6 separate regions of the Homo sapiens genome follow, and regions 1, 2, 3, 4 and 6 are each reported to be linked to region 5. The links are microRNA targets in miRTarBase. Many come from high-throughput screens and were not tested one by one. Region 5 holds a microRNA gene; each other region holds the end of a gene's coding sequence.

Region 1 (3,073 bases), not on the chromosome of region 5:
TGGTGAGCAGACTGGCCTCCCAGCACCTCGTGGCCATCCTGGACCCACCCCGTGCTGGCTTGCGTGAGTGGCTTTTGCTTAAGGAGGTGGCACGGGAACGAGGACACATGGGGTGGCTCACCATGTTATGCACTCTCTGGCTGTGGGGACCCAGCTGGTGTTTGCCTCCTCAGATTCCAAGGTGATCCTGGCCATCCGGAGAGCTAAGAACCTCAGGCGGCTGCTGTACGTCTCATGCAACCCCCGGGCAGCCATGGGCAACTTTGTGGAGTGAGTGTCTGCAGGGGCCTGGGTGGGGGCTAGGCCTGCTACCAAGCCCCCAGCTCCCACAGGAGCCCCTGATTAGCCTATCGGCTGACCTTAGCGCCCCCCTTTTCCCCCCACAGCCTCTGCAGAGCCCCATCTAACCGGGTGAAGGGCATTCCCTTCCGGCCGGTCAAGGCTGTGGCAGTGGACCTGTTCCCGCAGACCCCGCACTGTGAGATGCTCATCCTGTTTGAGAGGGTGGAGCACCCCAATGGCACAGGGGTCTTGGGGCCCCACAGCCCTCCAGCTCAACCCACACCAGGACCCCCAGATAACACCCTACAAGAAACTGGGACCTTCCCCTCATCCTAGGCCCAGGACCCATTATGGGGACAGGAGCTGAAGGGCTCCCAGGGCCCCAGGGGCGGGGAAGGCATGGCTTGCTGGCCAGGATATTCAGAGGTAGGCAGCCAAAGGGCACAGAACCCTGTGCCCCACCAGGATTGGCCTGCTGCTAGGGGCCAGGGGCCCTGACCAGGAAGACAGGTGGGTTCCTGTAGCCTGTTGCCCATCCCCAGGGCCTTTGTGGACTAGCCAAGGCTGTGAGGGCCAGAATAAACAACTGCTCAACAAAGGGTGTTTCTGTGATGAGAGCCAGGGGTCTGAACACAGGGCCTGGGTGCCAGGGAAAGGGCCAAACTAGGCCTAGGCAGCTCTGCAAGCCTCTCTGCATGGCTGGGGGAGTCAGGGCAGAGCTTACTTTAAAAAAGAATGTTCGATTTGATACTTAAACTTGAGGAGAGGCAGAGAGAGGTCTGGGAACTGCACCAGCTGGGGGCATGGGGTGGAGAACACTGGGCAGAGTTGGCCCCTCTGTGGCCAGCCTGGCCCTCAGCCCAGCAGAGAGGGCATCAACCAAGGAAGGGGCCATGCTGGGGTGCTGCTCAGCTGTTACAAAGGCAGGGTCCAGCCTGCAGGGAGGCCCCAGGAGGGGATCTGGCCAGTCAAGGGTCCACAGGGTGCCAGCCTCTCACCCTCAGAATAAAGACATCAGCCATTCCCTTCTGGACAGTTTGCTTTATGTGTTCAGACAATCAAGGCTCGCCTTCCAGGCACAGCCCAGTGCCCTGGATGGCATCAGCACAGGCTCCCCTGCCCCGGCCTTGAAGCATGGCTGTGTGCACGATTCATACCCATGCTTGGCAGACGGGTGGGGGGGGGGGGGGGGCGCACAGAGACCACAAGAGTATGGCAGCACCTGCTGTGGTGGTGCCTGGGAACAGCAAGACACAGCGAGGCTCCCCAACCTTTAGGGGAACACATGTGCACGAAGCTTTGGTTCACAGGCGCATCTGGCTGGCTAAGGGCAACAGTCACAGTCAAATGACTATTCACAGCTGCAGACAGGAGGCAAGACAGAAGCAAGTGTCTAATTATAGCAATTTGAGTTGAGGGTTTCTTTTTTAAAGGTCAACAGAAGCCAACCTTGGTCACACAGGTAGTGAGGGAAGGATATGTTGTGGGCGGCCCACAGGCCAACATTGTTTTCCTGACAGAAAAAAAAAAAAAAGCGCCATCAGTACCGCCTGTAGGGGGCATGGTGGGGGACAGACACGGCAGAACGCTGGACTCTTGCTTCAGATGGCGCACCACAAGCACACGGCACTCTGCACAGGTGCCAGTCCACCACCAGGGCCAGCCTTTGAGCACACCCTGGTGCCTCAGACTCCGGCAGGAACACATTTCCATCGCACACCCACCCATAGGGGCCACCAGTCGAGAAGCAAGCTGGGCACCAGGCAGCTGCCTTTGACATCCAGAGAAACCGCTGTCACAGGCAACAGCTCTGGATCAAGAATGGGCTACACTGAAGGCCCTTGCTTCCTGTTTCAACAAGTCCACTTGCTAAAATGCATGATTCCAAATCTACCTTCTACTCTCACTGTGAAAGTCTTTCAAAATGCTAAAATATCACAAAAGCTTTAAAAATCAATGGGTGGACATATGGACTCGACTGCAAAAAATCTTTGTAAAAAACTGTTGCCGGAGGCCAGGAAAGGCAGAGAGGGCCTCAGTGTCCAAAGAGGCGCTTTTAGGGAATTAAGACTTCATCAGAAAAAGGGACCCTAGGAGGCCAGGGTAACTCCAGGAGGTGGCAGGACGTCATCCTTGCTGGCATCGTGTCCAGACTGGAGAGGGACCACCTTGATGGTTTGCCTCCAATCCCAGAAAGCTAGTTCTGATGCTAAAATTCTGTTTAAGCCAAAAAGGTTTAAAATATTCCTTTCTCTTCTACCTTTTCAAAGAAGGGGAAACACAGAGGGTGGGTGAGGGCAGGGCACCATGTGCACCTCCTGACCAGGTCCCTGTAGCAGCCCTGCAGGCGCCCTGGGCACATGGGCCACCTGGCATCACGGGCCAGCCACAGGACTCAGCCATCCCCTCTCATCTGTCATCCAAGCATCATGTGTCGTCAGTGCGTATTACATACTAAAATTCATGAAAGCCTTCATAAAAAGAGCCTGCAGCAGGTGCACAGAAGCAGGGTCCACCACTGTCCACAGTCACCAGCTGCCACTGGTGCAGTCGCTGAGTCCATCCATTCAGGCCTGGAGCTTTCCAGGGAGAGCCGCTGCTCCACATGTGTGCTGTGTGGCCATGGCTGTCCCTGTACACTAAAGCCTCCACCCTAAGGCCGGGCCCACAGGTTGGCCACAGGGAAGGAGCGTGGGTTGGAGGCCTGACACTGTGGTGCACGATGCATGACTGCTGGTCTCCTCAGAAGTGCGGCTGGCGGCCCCCGCGCCCTGGCCCGTGCCACCTCCCT
Region 2 (3,104 bases), not on the chromosome of region 5:
AAAACTGATGTCTATTTTGTCTATGTAATGGTTGTTTTAACTTTTTCTTTTTACAGACAGAAAGAATTTACTTTCAGGTTTTCTTACCTAAAGGGAGCAAAGAGAAGAGCAAACCAATGTTCTTTTGCCACCGATGGAGCATTGGAAAGGCCATAGACTTTGCCGCTTCTCTAGCCAGGCTTAAAAATGACAATAACAAATTTACAGCTAAGGTAACATCTCATTATAATAATATTTCTATATTAATAAAGGTTTTATGATGCTCCATTCAAGCATGTTTATTTATTACAGTATGACTTACTTCTCCCTTCACAGAAATTAAGGCTGTGTCACATTACTTCAGGAGAAGCCTTACCCTTGGATCATACTTTGGAAACCTGGATTGCTAAGGAGGATTGTCCTTTATATAATGGTGGAAATATAATCTTGGAATATCTTAATGATGAAGAACAATTCTGTAAAAATGTTGAATCTTACTTGGAATAGTCATTCAAAGATTCAAGTCAGAAATCACAGGGAAAATTCTATTACATGTTTAAGTCCATTTATTTTACTACAAATACTATTTTTGTAATTTTTAAAAGTTGCTTTTTAACTTATTTCCCCTTATGTCACATTTTAAATTATGAGTTTTCTATTAGAGTTTTTTGGTTTTAAGTTTAATTGTGTACGGATCCTCAATTATTAGCAAATTCTTATATTTAATTAGCTTTCATTAGTTTATGCTGTAGTGACAACAACAAAGATGTATTTCCTGGTGGGGGATGTCAGCTGTTGATTGGCTGTGACACTGCTTTGTGTCATCTTCTTACCATGATCAAAGGCAAAGGAAGGGATCTCTTTTGGGACATTGTGATTGTTTTAGCAGAGAGAGAAAGAGATGAAATACACTTCGGTTTTCTCTTAAAAGATGCATGTATCATACGTGCTTTAAGCAAGTCATGTGGCCAAGCCTAGCATCATGGAGCCAGAAAGTATAGCCTTGCTGTCTGTCTACATCATGATGTATAAATTGATATATCTACATGAATTATAGAAACTTAGAAGTGATCTTTATTCAGTCTTATAATTTTTACATGAAGAATCTTAGGCCTAGGAGGAGAAAATGATTTTCTTTCTATTACCTAACTAGATTGGGGCATATTTCTGATAAAGACCCACCTCTAGTGAGATTCATCTTTTTTGTTTGTGTGACTATATTCCATAGAGAAGAAAGATGGGATAGCTCAACTTCATTATATACCAAAGCAAAACACATGCCAAATGATGACTACATTTTACCAACATATTTAGACGAGTATTCTTGACTAGTGTTTACTATCTATACCCCCAAAACTACTACTATATAGACAGAATGGAAAGTATTTCTATTTGTCCTTTTTTTGTTTTCTGTTCTAATTGTCAGGGACATATGTAGTGGCTATAGGTTTACTTAAAAGGAATAAATTTGGAATGCTCATTTGGTTTATTTCCTTTCTAATTCTTCATATTATTTTTATGTGAGGAATGGAGATAATTTCCAACTTTTATTATGTTCTTGTACTTTCATTCATTAGCATAGTTATTTGAGTTCCCACTAAATGTAGGGATTTGTCCTAATTGCCATGATTAATACAATGATGATATGTATACATACAGGTATACCTTGGAAATATTGTGGGTTCAGTTTCAGACTACCACACAAAGCAAATATTGGAGTATATTGAGCCAGACAAATTTTTTTTTGTTTCCCAGGGCATATAAAAATTATGTTTACACTATACTATAGTCTATTTAATGTGCAATAGCATTATGTCTAAAAAATGTATATACTTTAAGTAAAAAAATACTTTATTGCTAAAAAATGCTAATAATATCTGAGCCTTCAACAATTTGTAATGTTTTTGCTGATGGAGGGTCTTGCCTAATTTCAATAGCTACTGACTGATTGGGGCGGTAGTTACAGAAGGTTGGGGTGGCTGTGACAACTTCTTAAAATAAGACCACAGTGAAGTTTGCCACATTGATTGACTCTTCTTTTCATGAAAGATTTCTGTGTAGCATGCAATGCTTTTGATAGCATTTTTTCCTGAGTAGAACCTCTTTCAAAATTGAAGTCAATCCTCTTAAACCCTGCCACAGCTTTATCAACTAAGATAATGGAATATCTAAATTTTTTGTTACCATTTCAACAATGTTCTTAGCATCTTCACTAGGAGGAGATTCTCTCTTATTTTATTTATTTATTTATTTATTTTTTCTGAGGTGGAGTTTCACTCTTGTTGCCCAGGTTGGAGTACAGTGGTGTGATCTTGGCTCACTGCAACCTCCGCTTCCCAGGTTCAAGTGATTCTCCTGCCTCAGCCTCCTGAGTAGCTGGGATTACAGGCATGCGCCACCACACCTGGCTAATTTTGAATTTTTAGTGGAGACGGAGTTTCTGCATGTTGGTCAGGCTGGTCTGAAACTCCCGACCTCAGGTGATCTGCCTACCTCAGCCTCACAAAGTGCTGGGATTACAGGCGTGAACCACCATGTCCGGCCGAGATTCCCTCTTAAGAAACCACTCTTTGCTCATCCATAAGAAGCAACACCTCATCCATTCAGCTTTTGTTAAGAGATTGCAGCAATTCAATCACATCATCAAACTCTACTTCTACTTCTTGTTTTCTTGCCAATTCCACCACATCTACAATTATAAGATCACTAATTGCAGATCACAAAAACAGATGTAATAATAATGAAAAAGTTTGAAATATTGAGAGACTCACCAGACTGTGACACAGATACACAAAGTAAATGCATGCTATTAGAAAAATGGCTCTGGTAGGTCGGGCGTGGTGGCTCACACCTGTAATCCCAGCACTTTGGGAGGCCGAGGCGGGTGGATCACTTGAGGTCAGGAGTTCGAGACCAGCCTGGCCAACATAGTGAAACCCTGTCTCTACTAAAAATACAAAAATTAGCTTGGTGTGGTCGTGGGCGCCTGTAATCCCAGCTACTGGGGAGGATGAGGCAGGAGAATCACTTGAGCCTGGGAGGTAGAGGTTGCAGTGAGCCGAGATCATGCCACTGCACTCCAGCCTGGTGACAAAGCAAAAAAGACTGCATTTGATTTAATCTGA
Region 3 (3,000 bases), not on the chromosome of region 5:
GTGGGGTTTGATCCCGAGAACAGTGGAGATCACTGGAGGGGTGTGGCATGATGCAGTTTTCAGTCTCAGACATGTACCTGCTTGGTTGGAGGAGGCCTGGAGGGGTCAAAGTTAGAACCAGAGCCTCCTGTGAGGAGGCTCCCACAGTTGTCTGAGACAGTGGTGGCCTGGACCTTGGGCAGTGACAGAGAAGGGAGAGAAGTGGGCATATTTGTAGTATCTGAGGGAAATATACATCTAAGACAATTGGGAACATGGGGTAGAGGCAGGGTGGGCGTAGGAAATCTGGGCATCATCTGTGCACAATAGATGAGGGAGGGGAGAGTGATTAAGACAGGACAGAAGCCTGACATCCAGGGCGGGGTGGGAGGTCAGGGAGAGGACTCTGGGCTCCATCCCAGGAGCTGAGAGAAGGGTGGAAAGGTGAGCCCCCCAATCACTTTCTGGCCCCCAGTTGATCCCTACCCTGCTCTATTCCAGGACATAGACATCAACACAGATGATGAGCTGGACGCCTACATTGAGGACCTCATCACCAAGGGGGACTGAAGGCAGGAGAGAGAGCAGCTCCCCTGCCCACCTGCCCCTCAACCCTGTAGCTGCAGGGGGAGGGGACTTCATTCATGGGTTGGTGGTCGCACCTTGGTTTGACTTACACGGGACATTTGTGTTTTTGGAGGAAAAGATACCCTGATTCTTTGAATCTTCCTTAAGTTTATAAATATTTATTTTTTAAAAGAAGATGCTGTGCCTGTGAGACCATACTTTTTTTTTTTTTTTTTTTTTTTTTTTTTTTTTTTTGGTGACTGCAAAGGACAGAGAACCTTTCCACTTTGGCCATACTGGGTTGCTAAGCCGGAGCCATTTCAGCTCCTGGCTCCTCAAGATAACGGCGAGTCCAGTGCCATCTTGGAGAAGCTCCAGGGGCAGGGCTGACTTTTCTCCTACAGGAGGAACAATGTGGGGATCTGAGGGATGGGAGGGAGACTTCCCCCTAGAGTGGTGGTCCTGCTGGGGGCTCATATCCAGGGACCCAAAAGGGGGGCTGTGTAGGAGGTTCCACATTGGAGGGGCTCTCTCTCTCGCAGCTGTCAGAGTTGGTCCTGGCTGTGGCGTCCAAACAGCTTGAGGGAAAAAGATCCTGTCTAACCACCTCATCTACTACTCAAGTTCTTTCTGAAGGAGGGATTTCTTCAGTTAACCATGGACAGTGAGGTTTCTCACCACAGTAACTTGAGTCCAGGTTGAGGGGGAGACAGATCTGTGGTAAATCTCTGACTTGGGCAGCACACTGAGTGTGGAACCCCACAGGACTCCTTAGGGAAGGAGCTTGTGTGTGAAAGAACCCCTGGGGCTGAGCTGGTGACCTCCATGTGTGGGTGCAGCAGGGCCTTGGATGGTGCCAATTGATCTGGACAGCCTGTTGATGCTTTTCTACTTCCACCCTTCGGCCTGGCCCCACTGAGCCCCATCAAGGTGCCTGAAGAGGGGGCCAGTGAGATCCCGTGGCCACAGGGACTCCAGAGGCATCTCTGCAGGAAGCACACCATGCCTTCCCTCCATGTTCCATCACGGCGCCACAATCTGTGTCCCTTAACTTCTCAGGGTCAAAGACAAAGGCAAGCGTTGCTGAATTTTCTCTTTAATGGCCATTGGAAGAGTCTGGTTCAGTTTTTCCCAACTCTCTTCCCACTCGTATTTGGGGCCTCTGGGTTTTCTGAAGGCACAAGGACTGTGACTTTGTACCACTAACCTGTGGTTCAAACCTGGGTGTGTTTCTGGCATCTCCCTAACCCAGATCAGCAATGGCCACCCTGCTCCTCTGAGGTCAGCAGAAGACTGGGAAGCAGAGGTGAGGGATGCAGGCCACACTGGAATGGGAAGTCTTTTCCCCACTGGATGTGCCTGTCTGGTGGGTTTTGGACCTTCCCAGACTACATCTCTAGGAGAGGCCTGTTTGGAGTAGTACACTGAGAGACCCTGGCCTCTTCTGCTGGAAGACTGTCCAAGTCTTGGGGTTTCTTGAGCTGGTGATTCCTCTGCCATCCTGCTCTCTCTCTTCATCTCAGGCAGCATGGGGTCCACTTTTGTCCCCAAACCTAATGTTTTAATCCAAATGCAAATTGGTTCCACATTTTTACTGGAGGGTAATCAGTTTTTAAAATTCACACACATGTAATCGAAACGCAATACTATAAAGTTCTACTGGTGAGACTCCTGAACTCAGTCTGTTTTCTTAGTAAAATCCAGCACCTTCCTTCTCTTCATTCTTTGTATCACTGTGGCTTTAAACTGTCTTCAAGTTATTCCTCCTCATCACCTCCATTGTTTTATCTTCACCCCCTTAACATCCACAGAAACAGACTGGAGTTCTTGAATGTTTTAGCTTCAACTTCTACATGTGCCCACTTTGCTTTGTTAATGCTACCACAGCTGTGCTGAATGAAGCCTGTTTCCCAGGCAGAGATCCTGCCACTCTGGATGGGAAGATAAAATGCAGGGGTCCTCTTTCCTGGTTTCCTGGGAACATCAAGGGACAGGTGACCAGCTTGGAACTCTTTGATGACTTGGAAGGAGGAAGATGGTCTGGCTGATCTGTGGTGAGAAGGTCCTTTGCACAAGGCTGCAAGAAAGTGAAGGGCAGCAATGCTGGTGTTTAAAGAACGAGAGGGGTGGGGACTCTAGGGTGTTTTGTTTGAGATGGGGGTCTCGCCCTGGTCACCTAGGCTGGAGTGCAGTGGCACGATCTTGGCTCACTGATACATCTGCCTTCCAGGCTCAAGTGATCTCCCACCTTAGCCTCCCAGGTAGCTGGAACCACAGGCACACACCATCATGCCTGGCGAATTTTTTTTGTATTTTTGGTAGAGTTTCGTCATGTTGCTTAGGATGGTCTCAAACTCCTGAGCTCAAGTGATCCACCTGCCTCGGCCTCCCAGAGTGCTGGGATTACAGTGTGAGCCACCATGCCTCACCTAGGGTGTTTGGTTTTTAAGTGAA
Region 4 (3,130 bases), not on the chromosome of region 5:
CTCTGAGGTGTTAACTAGCTTGCTTATGAGCACCCAGTGCAAGCAGGAGAGTCAGAGTGTGACTGCAGAGTCCCAGAGTTCACCCATGTGACTGTTTTGCTGCCTTGCCTGTTTCTAACCTGTAGCTTGCTGCTTGACCTAGTTTGCATGAAGAGTCTTAGCCTTGGGTTTTACCTTAGAGCCTCACAAATGTTAGCTGCTATTGTTGTCATTAAGCTTTGATGAGTTTTCTGCCTTGAACCTCCTCCTTTTACCAGGATTAAAAATATATCAACGACACATGCCCTGCCCTGCCAGCTACTTCCATTTTATATACAAGAAAGAGAAAACTCAGAGATGTTGGATGACCTCCTCAACGTCATAGGATCTTAGATCTAGAGAAGACCTTAAACATTTTCTCCAGTTTGTTGCCTTTTAGCCTATTTAGTTTAGTTTGCTTTTAGCAATGAAGTCTCCCTTTCAAACAAAGTCCCATGGGAGGTCCAAGTTGTAAAGAAGAGAAAAACAGAGGGCTCTGTTGGGAACAGGGTTCAAGGGATGAATCCTGGCCCATTTATCCTCCCCTCTGCAGGGTTTCCCATTTCCAGAGACCTTAGAGGGAAGGGTCCAAGGAGCTCTGTTTGGAAAATCCCCATCCAAATCAACATTCCCCTCAAACAAATGAGGAACAGTCCCCACAAAGGGAGGTGACTTGGCCAAAATCAGACAGCAAGTGCATGACCTCACTGGGGCCTGCCTCTTGGACTCCAGAGACCAAGCCCAGAATCTAACAGAAACAACCTGGGCAGGTGAAAGGACCACACTCCTCACTCTCCTGACTGTTTACTGAGGTGTGTTTGATAAGTGGTCACTCATGGTCTTGCACTCCCACCTATGGGGACAAATTCAATACTCCATTCACTAATCTCATAATTTCCCAGATGCTCCTTTCTTTACACCCTGGTTGTTGGGGGGCAAGTCTTTTTATTTTCTAGGTATTGTGAAATAAAATATACATACAGAAAACCGCCTAACTGCATCCATGCCAAGAAATAGAATGTTGTCTGGACCCTAAAATCCCCCAGGTGCTCCTGCCTGCCACTCTCTCTCGCAGGGGCCAAGTGTCACTGGGCCTTCAGACAGAGCATGGCCTTGCTTCTCTCTGCACCACCTGTTTCCACAGCCCTCCACACAACAGCCCCATGTTGCCCGTTTTGAACTTTGTAGAAATGGAATCACACTCTATGCATGCTTTTGTGATTCTTGTACCCACATGATGTTTGTAAGATTATCTGTCTTGTGAGGTGCAGCTGGCTGTAATTCATTCATTTTCTTTGCCAAGGAGCACTGTGTTGTGTGCAGATACATGATGTACTAATTCATTCTGTGATGGGTGCTTGGGTTGTTTCCAGCAGAGGCTGTTGTGGACAGTGCTGCCCCATATCTTTTTTGCAGAGAGATTTGCTCTCATGTTATCCAGGGAGAGTGAGGCTGAAGGAAGAAAAGAACTCTCAGAGAAGAGGCCAGGCGCCAGCCTCTGGGGTAAGAAAGACACATTGGTCTTTCAGTTTCCTCAGCACTCTATACCCAAAGCCTGTCAAGGCCAAGGACATAGTCAACAATATAGGCATTTTCAAGATTTTATTGTAAAACAGAGCTGAAGTCACAGGAAGTAGGGAACTTTGCACCCAACATATACAGCATTCATTCGCTGAGTACCTGCCAAGAGCGAGGCTAGGTGCTTGGCCCTGCAGGGACCTGAGACATATACGAGTCATGTTTCCTGCTCTGCAGAGCTCCCAGCCCGGTGGGGGAGACAGGCAGAGGCACAGCCATCTTTCATACAAGTCTCCAAGTGCCAGAAGCTCTACAATGTCAAGGAGCAATTTATTCCTTCAGCAGAGGAAGAAAGAACCCCCAGGAGCCACATTTGCTCAGAGCCTTGGGAGCTGAGAAACTTCTGATAGGAGGTAAAGTACTGCAGGCAGCTGTAAAAAATCTGGAGTGGAGATGGAGCTTGGAGGCTGGGCAGCAGTGCCTGGACAGAGGAGTCCAGATTATGGAAGTGTTTTAAAAGGAAAAAAAAAATTATGGGGCTAACATAGTACCATAACTTTTAATTTTTACAAGTTGGGACATCACAAAAAAAGAAGAAAAAGAAGGGAAAAGCTACCACTTACTTTCACCATCATTTCACAAATGCAGGAATATTTTAAGTCCTCAGCCTCTCCCCGAAAGAACATAATCTCCAAATGAAGGGCTCTCCTTCACGGGGACTGAAAAAAAAAAATCATGAAATCCTAATTTTCATTTTCCACAAACCCTTAAAAACCTCCCTCATGGACTGGTCTTTTCTTTTTTGTAAAACAGGGTGTGGGAGCCACTTGGTTGGGGGTCATCAAGTGGCCTGATGGATCCAGGGCATGGGAAGGTGGAATGAGGGAGGAAGAGGCAGTGGCAAGAGGAGAGCAGGTTGGGCAGGTGGTCGGGGTTTGATCCTGAATGCAGAGGCGACATGGAAGGGCTTTGTGCAGGGGCTGCTGTGCTCTGATTCACACATTAGAAAGACCATTCTGGAGGCAGCATGGAGGCTGGTCAGTTGAAGAGGAGGCAGAGTCCTGTGACCAGGTTGTTGTGACGCCTTCTGAGGGTCCACCCCTCAATGGCTGGTCCTCAGTGCCCCCATAGCCGGGAGCCCTGGGGCAGGGGGACTGGCAGTCCCTGCAGTCCTTGCCATGCAAGAATGGGAACAGGCAGGCCTGGGCAGTACTACTCGTCCTCCTGGAAGTAGAATTTGGTGACCATGACGCCTTCGTCAGGCATATTGGTGAGGCTGACGGGCTGGTCAGCTTCCATCGCTGTGCAGAGGAACCAACCGGGGCAGGCGGCAGACTCAAAACTGGTGGTGGGGCCACTGTCTGAGCGGATGAAGGCGAAGCGCTTGTCCTGCTTTCTGTTCTCGCTCAGGTCAGTGATGTTAACTGCCTGGAAATCAAAAGATGGGCAGGTGAGAGCTGAGGCCTAGGAAGTCCTGTGCTGCCTCCCTCTCCACTCCACGCCATGAAATGGCCCTCTGGACAGCCCAGAGTTAGTACAGGGGAAATGCCATACCCTAAAAGCCCCCAGGTGCTCCTGTCTGCCATTCTGTGGG
Region 5 (3,130 bases):
CCAGGAGAGGGGCAGTGACACACCCAGAACTTCATAGCCAGTAAGAGTGTGAGCCATGCAGCCATGGCAGAACCTATGCCTACCCGACCCCATCTGGACTTCCAGCTCTAGGCAATTTCTGCAGCGTCCCTTCCCCCTCACCACCTTCAGCCCCTGGCTCTTAGAGCTGCCTTCAGCCTTCGTTTGGACAAGTAGCTGAGCTCAATGTCTTCCCAGCTTTCCCCTCCCGGATCACTGCCCAACTCTGGGGGCCTCCTTCCTCTGCCCTGGGCCCTCCCACATACCCATTTCTTAGGGGCTCCAAGTCCACATCTCCCATCTCCCCATCCCCACACACTCACCCTGGGCAGCAGCCAGCTCCTGCAGGGCATGGGTCATCTGGGTGAAGGTGTCATGCAGGTGGCTTCTCTCATCATAGTCTGGCGGTGAGGGAGGGAGCAGGGGCTGGGGGAGGCAGCTCCCCGCAACACCATGTCCCTAATGCGAACATTCTGTTTCTGAGTCTCTGCCCTCCCAAGTCTGTATCCTCCCCTCTCTGACTCTTTGCCCCACAGTCGCTATGCTTCCTGAGTCCCTCCCAAGTCTCTATCCTCCCTGAGTCTCTGCCCCCGACCAGTCGCTATCCTGCTTCCCCTAGTCTCTGCCTCATCTCTGTCCTCCTCTCTCTGGGTTTCCATCCTCTTTGAGTCTCCATCTTCCACCCTCTGAGTCTCCATCCTCCCCTCTCTGGGTCTCTATTCCCTCTCCAGTCTCCAACCTCTCCTGACTCTCCATCCTCCCCTTTCTATGAGTCTCCATCCTCCTGACTCTCCATCCTCCCGAGTGTCCATCCTCCCCTCTCTGACTCTCCATACTCCTGAGTCTCCATCTTTCCGAGTCTCCATCTTCCTCTCTCTCTGAGTCTCCATCCTCCCCCTCTCTGAGTCTCCATCTTCCCCTCTCTGACTCTCCATCCTCCCCTCTCTGAGTCTTTGCCCTGCTGTCTTCCCCTGTCTGTGTCTCTCTGTCCCTAAGTCTCTGTTGTTCTCATGGTCTTTGAGCCTTTCTCCTCTGACTGTTTCTCTCTGTCTGTCCCTCAGCCTGACCCTCTGGGCCTCTCCTGCCCTCCCTCTGCACCTTCCCCAGGACACTGATGAAGTGTGGATGGTCTCCTCACTGATTTCGGTGTCAGAGAGGCCCTGGAAGGCGGCCGTGAAGGCCTCCTCACACTCTTCAAGCTTGGGGCTCCGCATCCCAACAAACATCTGGCAGATGCGGAGGCGCTCAGAGTAGGTTGTGAAGCAGAGGAGACAGGCCCAGGCGGGCACCCTGAAGACAGCCAGGGCCAGCAGGGCAGACGGGACGGCACTGGCCAGAGCCAGCAGGGCCATCGTGTGGGTCTCAAGGCCAGGGGAGAAGCTAGTAACCTTTATGAAGTCACCACAGGGCGGGGGAAGGGCCAGTGGTCTGGGGTCAGAGGTCAGGTTTCAGTTGGTGGTCAAATGTCATGCTCTGGAGGAAGGGTATGAGGAGTCAGGGGTCAGAAGTCAGGCCAGCAATTCCCCAGGTGTGTGGTTGGGCCAGACGCCAGGCTCCCAAGAACCTCACCTGTGACCCTGGATGTCCTCACAGGTTAAAGGGTCTCAGGGACCTAGAGACTGGCAACATGGTGTGCGGTGGCCCGGTAGACCCTGGGGTGGGGGTCAGAGATGGAGATAGGCACAGAGACATTCTGAGAGCCAGAGACAGAAAGACCAAAAACGACAGAAATAGAGACACAGAGAGATATCGGGAGGGGCAGAGACCTAGAAAGCCAGAATAAGAGGGAGTCAGAGGATCCACTGTGAAAGAGACACAGAAGCCACAGAGACACAGCAGAGATGGAGACAGACAGGGAAGGAAAACAGATTTCAGGGGAAGGAGGGGATGCAGGGACAAGGACAGAAAAGAGCCCGGCTCTTCCTCCCAGGGTCCCTGGGGCAGCCCAGTGGGGCTAAGGGTCCCTGAGTGGGGCTGGGGGTCCCCGCCGGGCCCCGTCCCGTGCAGGGCGCAGCCTGGGGAAAGCTAGGAGGCCGTATAGTGATCTCCTTGGGTGTCCTCCTCAACTATACAACCTCCTACCTCAGCCCGGGGGGCGCGGCAGGTGGACAGACCCGACAGACAGACAGACAGGGACCAGGAGGACCAGGGATGAGGGGGAGGGCCGGGGAGGCCCCAGCCGCGATGGTGAGCCCCCGACACGGACCCACAGACACGAGCTTGTGTGCGGCGAAGGCCCCGCAAGGTCGGTTCTACGGGTGGGTGCCAGGACCCAGGAGTCCGGGCCCCCGGCCCCTCCTCCCCAAGGAACCCAGGAGTCCAGGCCCTCAGCCCCTTCCTCATCAGGGACCCTGGAGTCAAGGCTCTCATCCCCCTCCTCCCTAAAGAACCCAGAAGTCTAGGCCCTTCCTCACCACAGACCCAGGAATCCAGGCCTCTGGCCCTTTTCTCCCCAAATGTTCCTGGAATCCAAGGACTCAGCCCCTTCCTCCCTCAGACTCATGAGTCCAGATCCAAAGCCTCCTTCTCCCCAGAGACCCAGGAGTCCCTGCCCCCAGCCCCTCCTCCCTCCGGCCAGGCAGGCCTCCTGGGGAAGGCATGGCCTGATAGAAAACCTGGCTTCCTGGGTGCCGGCTGGGAGGGAACCTCATTTGTCTCGTAATTTGGCCCTTTGGGCACACCTGCTTCCTACCTACCCTCCTGTCAGTCTGCAGAGACTCCAGGCCCAGGGCTAAGGAGGCCAGGGGCTAGCCAACCATCAGAGCCTCCCTAGGTGCTTTCTTTCCTCTCTCCTCCCTTCTTTGGGTCATTTACAACTATGACAGCCACAATCTCCCAGCGCTGACCCCATACCAGGCCCTGAGCACCAGTCCTCTCCCTGACACCTCCCACTCCAGAGAGCGAGGTGCCCTCAGCATCCCCATTTGGCAGGTGAGGGGGCTGAGCCTCAGAGAGGGGAAGAGGCTCCCAAAGTCTGCCCAGCCCCATCTCTGTCCTCCCTCTTGAATCCAGGAGGTGTCCCCAGCCTTCTCCAGCTTCTGGACCCCGGGACCCAGCACCCACCCTCCCCACCCCTGGGCTCTGAGCCCCTCCAGCTGGGGTCTCTCCCGTG
Region 6 (3,130 bases), not on the chromosome of region 5:
GTTGACCACATAATTATTTGTTTACGTCATCAGCTGGCACAGGGCCTTTATGAGGTCAGAGACTGCCTAGCCCTGTGTTCCTGGCACCTAACAATGCCTGTCATAAAAACAGGCATTCAGTACGTTTTTGATGATGAACAAATTATACTTATTTCCTTGGTATTTGACAACTACTTGACTGTATATGATGATAATTAGAATATCCACTCTGAGAAATCATTTAAAAGAGAAAACTCATTCAATGCAATCTCAAATGCCTTTACTCATCACGCTCTCATTTTCTTCCAGATTCCTGGTGCCCCTGATGATGAAGCAGTACGGATATTTTTAGAATTTGAGAGAGTTGAATCAGCAATTAAAGGTTAGTGGTACAGCTAAATATTAAAGAATAAAAAAGTTGAATTTACAGCCTTAATCTTTACAAGTAAAGTTACTGTTTAATTAAAGTTAAACCTTTATCTTATAGGATACCTGTATTAACTGTCTTTTGTTTGCCTTTCAGCGGTTGTTGACTTGAATGGGAGGTATTTTGGTGGACGGGTGGTAAAAGCATGTTTCTACAATTTGGACAAATTCAGGGTCTTGGATTTGGCAGAACAAGTTTGATTTTAAGAACTAGAGCACGAGTCATCTCCGGTGATCCTTAAATGAACTGCAGGCTGAGAAAAGAAGGAAAAAGGTCACAGCCTCCATGGCTGTTGCATACCAAGACTCTTGGAAGGACTTCTAAGATATATGTTGATTGATCCCTTTTTTATTTTGTGGTTTTTTAATATAGTATAAAAATCCTTTTAAAAAAACAACAATCTGTGTGCCTCTCTGGTTGTTTCTCTTTTTTATTATTACTCCTGAGTTGATGACATTTTTTGTTAGATTTCATGGTAATTCTCAAGTGCTTCAATGATGCAGCATTTCTTGCACTAAAAAAAAAAAAAAAAAAAAAACTAGAAAGTTTTGGGACATGGGGTTATATTAAATTATTCTTTGTTTTTCTTTTTCTTTTAATAAAGCCTGCAAGTTACTAAATTGTAGTTTCATAAATTCTGTAGTAAAGTATCATCTTGGCAGTGTGCCAAAGGTGAAAATGATGCTTTCTCTAACAGAGAAATTCTTAGTGACTCCAGTCGTAGAAAAACGTCTTTACAACCTGAATAAGATTGAAGAATTGTGAACATACCATGGCCTATTGGATGAATCATTTGCCGTAGGCTAAATCAGACTGTAGGGTTTGTGATGGATTTATGGAGTATGTGGGTATAGAAATCATGAATCTAGCATTTGTTTTCAGAGATTCAAGCATAGTCTTAAGGGTAGATCAGAAATGACAAATGAATTCAAAACCTAGCAGGTGCATTGTAAATGTGTGCCCAGTTATGTTTTGGAAATGGCAGTTCCTTGGGGTCATGTTTCTACTGGCAAAATTTGCAATAGTGTTCTATTGTATGTAATTTTAAAATTTATAAGATTATCCACGTTGGCCAAGTAAACTGTACTGCCAATAGAATTCTGGAATTGTGAGAAATTGTATCATTGAAGTTCAGTAGGATGTGTGGCTTAAAAATTTATCAGGACCACAAAAAAGAAAACAAAAATATTTGGTACTGAGGTTCATTGCCAGGGCAGGAGGTATTTCCAGAAAATACTCATGCCTGTGTTCTGTTCCTTGCTTTCCCAAATACTGCATGTGACTTTCCTAAGCGGCAGCTGAAAGACTCGAGCCCGTGCTGTCTCCTTTGGTTATTATGACATGAAAGTGTATCAAGAACTCAGCATTTCTTTGCATCCATGGACTTGGTTTGGAGACATAAGGAATATTCTGACCCTTTTTAAAAAAGGATTTTCTCATGTTTTTATTTAACATAAATAAAAGAATAACATTTTATCTTTTGTGGTATTATTTTATTGAATAAAATTGAGTTTTATGATAAAAGTGCACCTGTTCTGTAAAGTAAGTTGGGGTTAAGGAATGTGAGGTAAATTACATAATTGAACATTGTGGAAGACAGAATCAAAAGCAGCCCTGGAACTTCAGTTATCTATGGAATTAGGCATACCATTCCTCAAGTGGAAACCATGTTTGTGCTTACAAGTACCGGAGTGTGCTTGTTTAATTTTAGAAACTAATGGTTCCAACCCACCTTTCATGCATGCATTTATTGTTGTTATGCTTTGTAAAACATTGTTTGCACCTAAATGGGTGGCTTTTCCTAACATTCTCATGGTCAGCAACCAGAGAGTTGCAACCAACTCATACTACTTGATTTCCGTTCGCATGAGGACAGCTTGGTGTGTGCCTTTCTCCCCAGTCTTTTATTTTTAAAATAACTGTGTTAATCAGTTAGTGCTTTATTTATAATGAATTTCTGATAGTCGAATAATTTCTAAATCTCCTGCAAGTTAGTACTTGAGAAATTTGAAATTAATTTTCAATATTAACATTTAAGCTAATATAAAAATTTTAAATTTCAATAAAAATTAAAAATTATGTAAGCTACAATGTAACTGGCAAGTTTCCGTGTAATAGACGTTTGTCATTCTTGGTGGCCCATCTGTGAGTTTTTGAAACCCCTTTTTCTTTTTTTTTCTTTTTTTTTTGAGACGGAGTCTTGCTCTGTCGCCCAGGCTGGAGTGCAGTGGCATGATCTGGGCTCACTGCAACCTCCGCCTTCTGGGTTCACGCCATTCTTCTGCCTCAGCCTCCCAAGTAGCTGGGACTACAGGCGCCCGCCACCACGCCCGGCTAATTTTTTGTATTTTTAATAGAGACGGGGTTTCTCCGTGTTAGCCAGGATGGTCTTGATCTCCTGACCCGTGATCCGCCTCAGCCTCCCCAAGTGCTGGGATTACAGGTGTGAGCCACCGAGCCCAGCCTGAAACGCCTTTTTCTGTGTGGGGAACTTCCTTGTTTCCCTCCTCCCCGCAAGAGACTAGAAACTTGCTTTCCCAGCCTGTCTTGCAGGTTGAGTAGGGTTGTGCGCTTGGGATCTCTGATCAGACCGGCACCGCAGTGTGGGAGAGAAGCTGTGTGAAGAGTCTGTCGTCTGACTTTGGCAAGGGTTCCTCTGCACAGTGTTGTGTGGCACTGGGGGCAGCAGTGGCAGAGACCTTGTCACCTCTGCTGGTGTGTGGT

What was found. Region 5 holds the annotated microRNA hsa-miR-125a-5p (UCCCUGAGACCCUUUAACCUGUGA, at 1,606-1,629, opposite strand). A microRNA usually pairs through its seed, bases 2 to 8, with sites in the 3' UTR of a target mRNA and lowers its output. Matches are read on the target gene's strand: a 7mer-m8 pairs with bases 2 to 8, a 7mer-A1 pairs with bases 2 to 7 and ends in A, and an 8mer does both.
Region 1: the mRNA of TRMT2A is a reported target of hsa-miR-125a-5p. The part of its 3' UTR that is shown has no 7-base or 8-base seed match.
Region 2: the mRNA of ZFAND1 is a reported target of hsa-miR-125a-5p. Seed matches in the 3' UTR shown: 7mer-A1 at 1,402-1,408.
Region 3: miRTarBase lists MORC2 as a target of hsa-miR-125a-5p. Seed matches in the 3' UTR shown: 7mer-m8 at 1,601-1,607.
Region 4: miRTarBase lists IL1RN as a target of hsa-miR-125a-5p. The part of its 3' UTR that is shown has no 7-base or 8-base seed match.
Region 6: miRTarBase lists RBM17 as a target of hsa-miR-125a-5p. The part of its 3' UTR that is shown has no 7-base or 8-base seed match.

The regions. Positions count from the first base shown.
Region 1 is chr22:20,110,108-20,113,180 of GRCh38, reverse strand. TRMT2A (tRNA methyltransferase 2A) reads left to right here. Exons shown (of 12, transcript NM_022727.6): 10 at 1-63; 11 at 174-270; 12 at 387-1,306. The coding sequence ends at 618. It overlaps DGCR8 (DGCR8 microprocessor complex subunit), which reads right to left. Exons shown (of 14, transcript NM_022720.7): 14 at 1,309-3,073. The coding sequence ends at 3,073. Among named protein-coding and RNA genes, the nearest start is that of MIR6816, 3.1 kb to the left of the region's middle. RefSeq lists an enhancer at 704-1,203.
Region 2 is chr8:81,700,077-81,703,180 of GRCh38, reverse strand. It overlaps ZFAND1 (zinc finger AN1-type containing 1), which reads left to right. Exons shown (of 8, transcript NM_024699.3): 7 at 57-212; 8 at 316-1,844. The coding sequence ends at 486. Among named protein-coding and RNA genes, the nearest start is that of SLC10A5, 6.6 kb to the right of the region's middle.
Region 3 is chr22:30,924,352-30,927,351 of GRCh38, reverse strand. MORC2 (MORC family CW-type zinc finger 2) reads left to right here. Exons shown (of 26, transcript NM_001303256.3): 26 at 481-2,222. The coding sequence ends at 549. It overlaps MORC2-AS1 (MORC2 antisense RNA 1), which reads right to left. Exons shown (of 2, transcript NR_026920.1): 2 at 698-2,623. Among named protein-coding and RNA genes, the nearest start is that of MORC2-AS1, 3.5 kb to the right of the region's middle.
Region 4 is chr2:113,132,490-113,135,619 of GRCh38, reverse strand. It overlaps IL1RN (interleukin 1 receptor antagonist), which reads right to left. Exons shown (of 4, transcript NM_173842.3): 4 at 1,606-2,964. The coding sequence ends at 2,749. Among named protein-coding and RNA genes, the nearest start is that of IL1RN, 6.5 kb to the right of the region's middle. RefSeq lists a silencer at 4-153.
Region 5 is chr19:51,691,767-51,694,896 of GRCh38, reverse strand. It overlaps MIR125A (microRNA 125a), which reads right to left and starts at 1,643; the gene lies at 1,558-1,643. It overlaps SPACA6 (sperm acrosome associated 6), which reads right to left and starts at 1,567. Exons shown (of 9, transcript NM_001316972.2): 1 at 1,157-1,567; 2 at 342-419. The coding sequence starts at 1,370. SPACA6-AS1 (SPACA6 antisense RNA 1) reads left to right here and starts at 1,441. Exons shown (of 2, transcript NR_108100.1): 1 at 1,441-2,263. It overlaps MIR99B (microRNA 99b), which reads right to left and starts at 2,285; the gene lies at 2,216-2,285. It also overlaps MIRLET7E.
Region 6 is chr10:6,114,951-6,118,080 of GRCh38, forward strand. It overlaps RBM17 (RNA binding motif protein 17), which reads left to right. Exons shown (of 12, transcript NM_032905.5): 11 at 289-361; 12 at 503-2,497. The coding sequence ends at 606. Among named protein-coding and RNA genes, the nearest start is that of RBM17, 27 kb to the left of the region's middle. RefSeq lists a silencer at 942-1,142.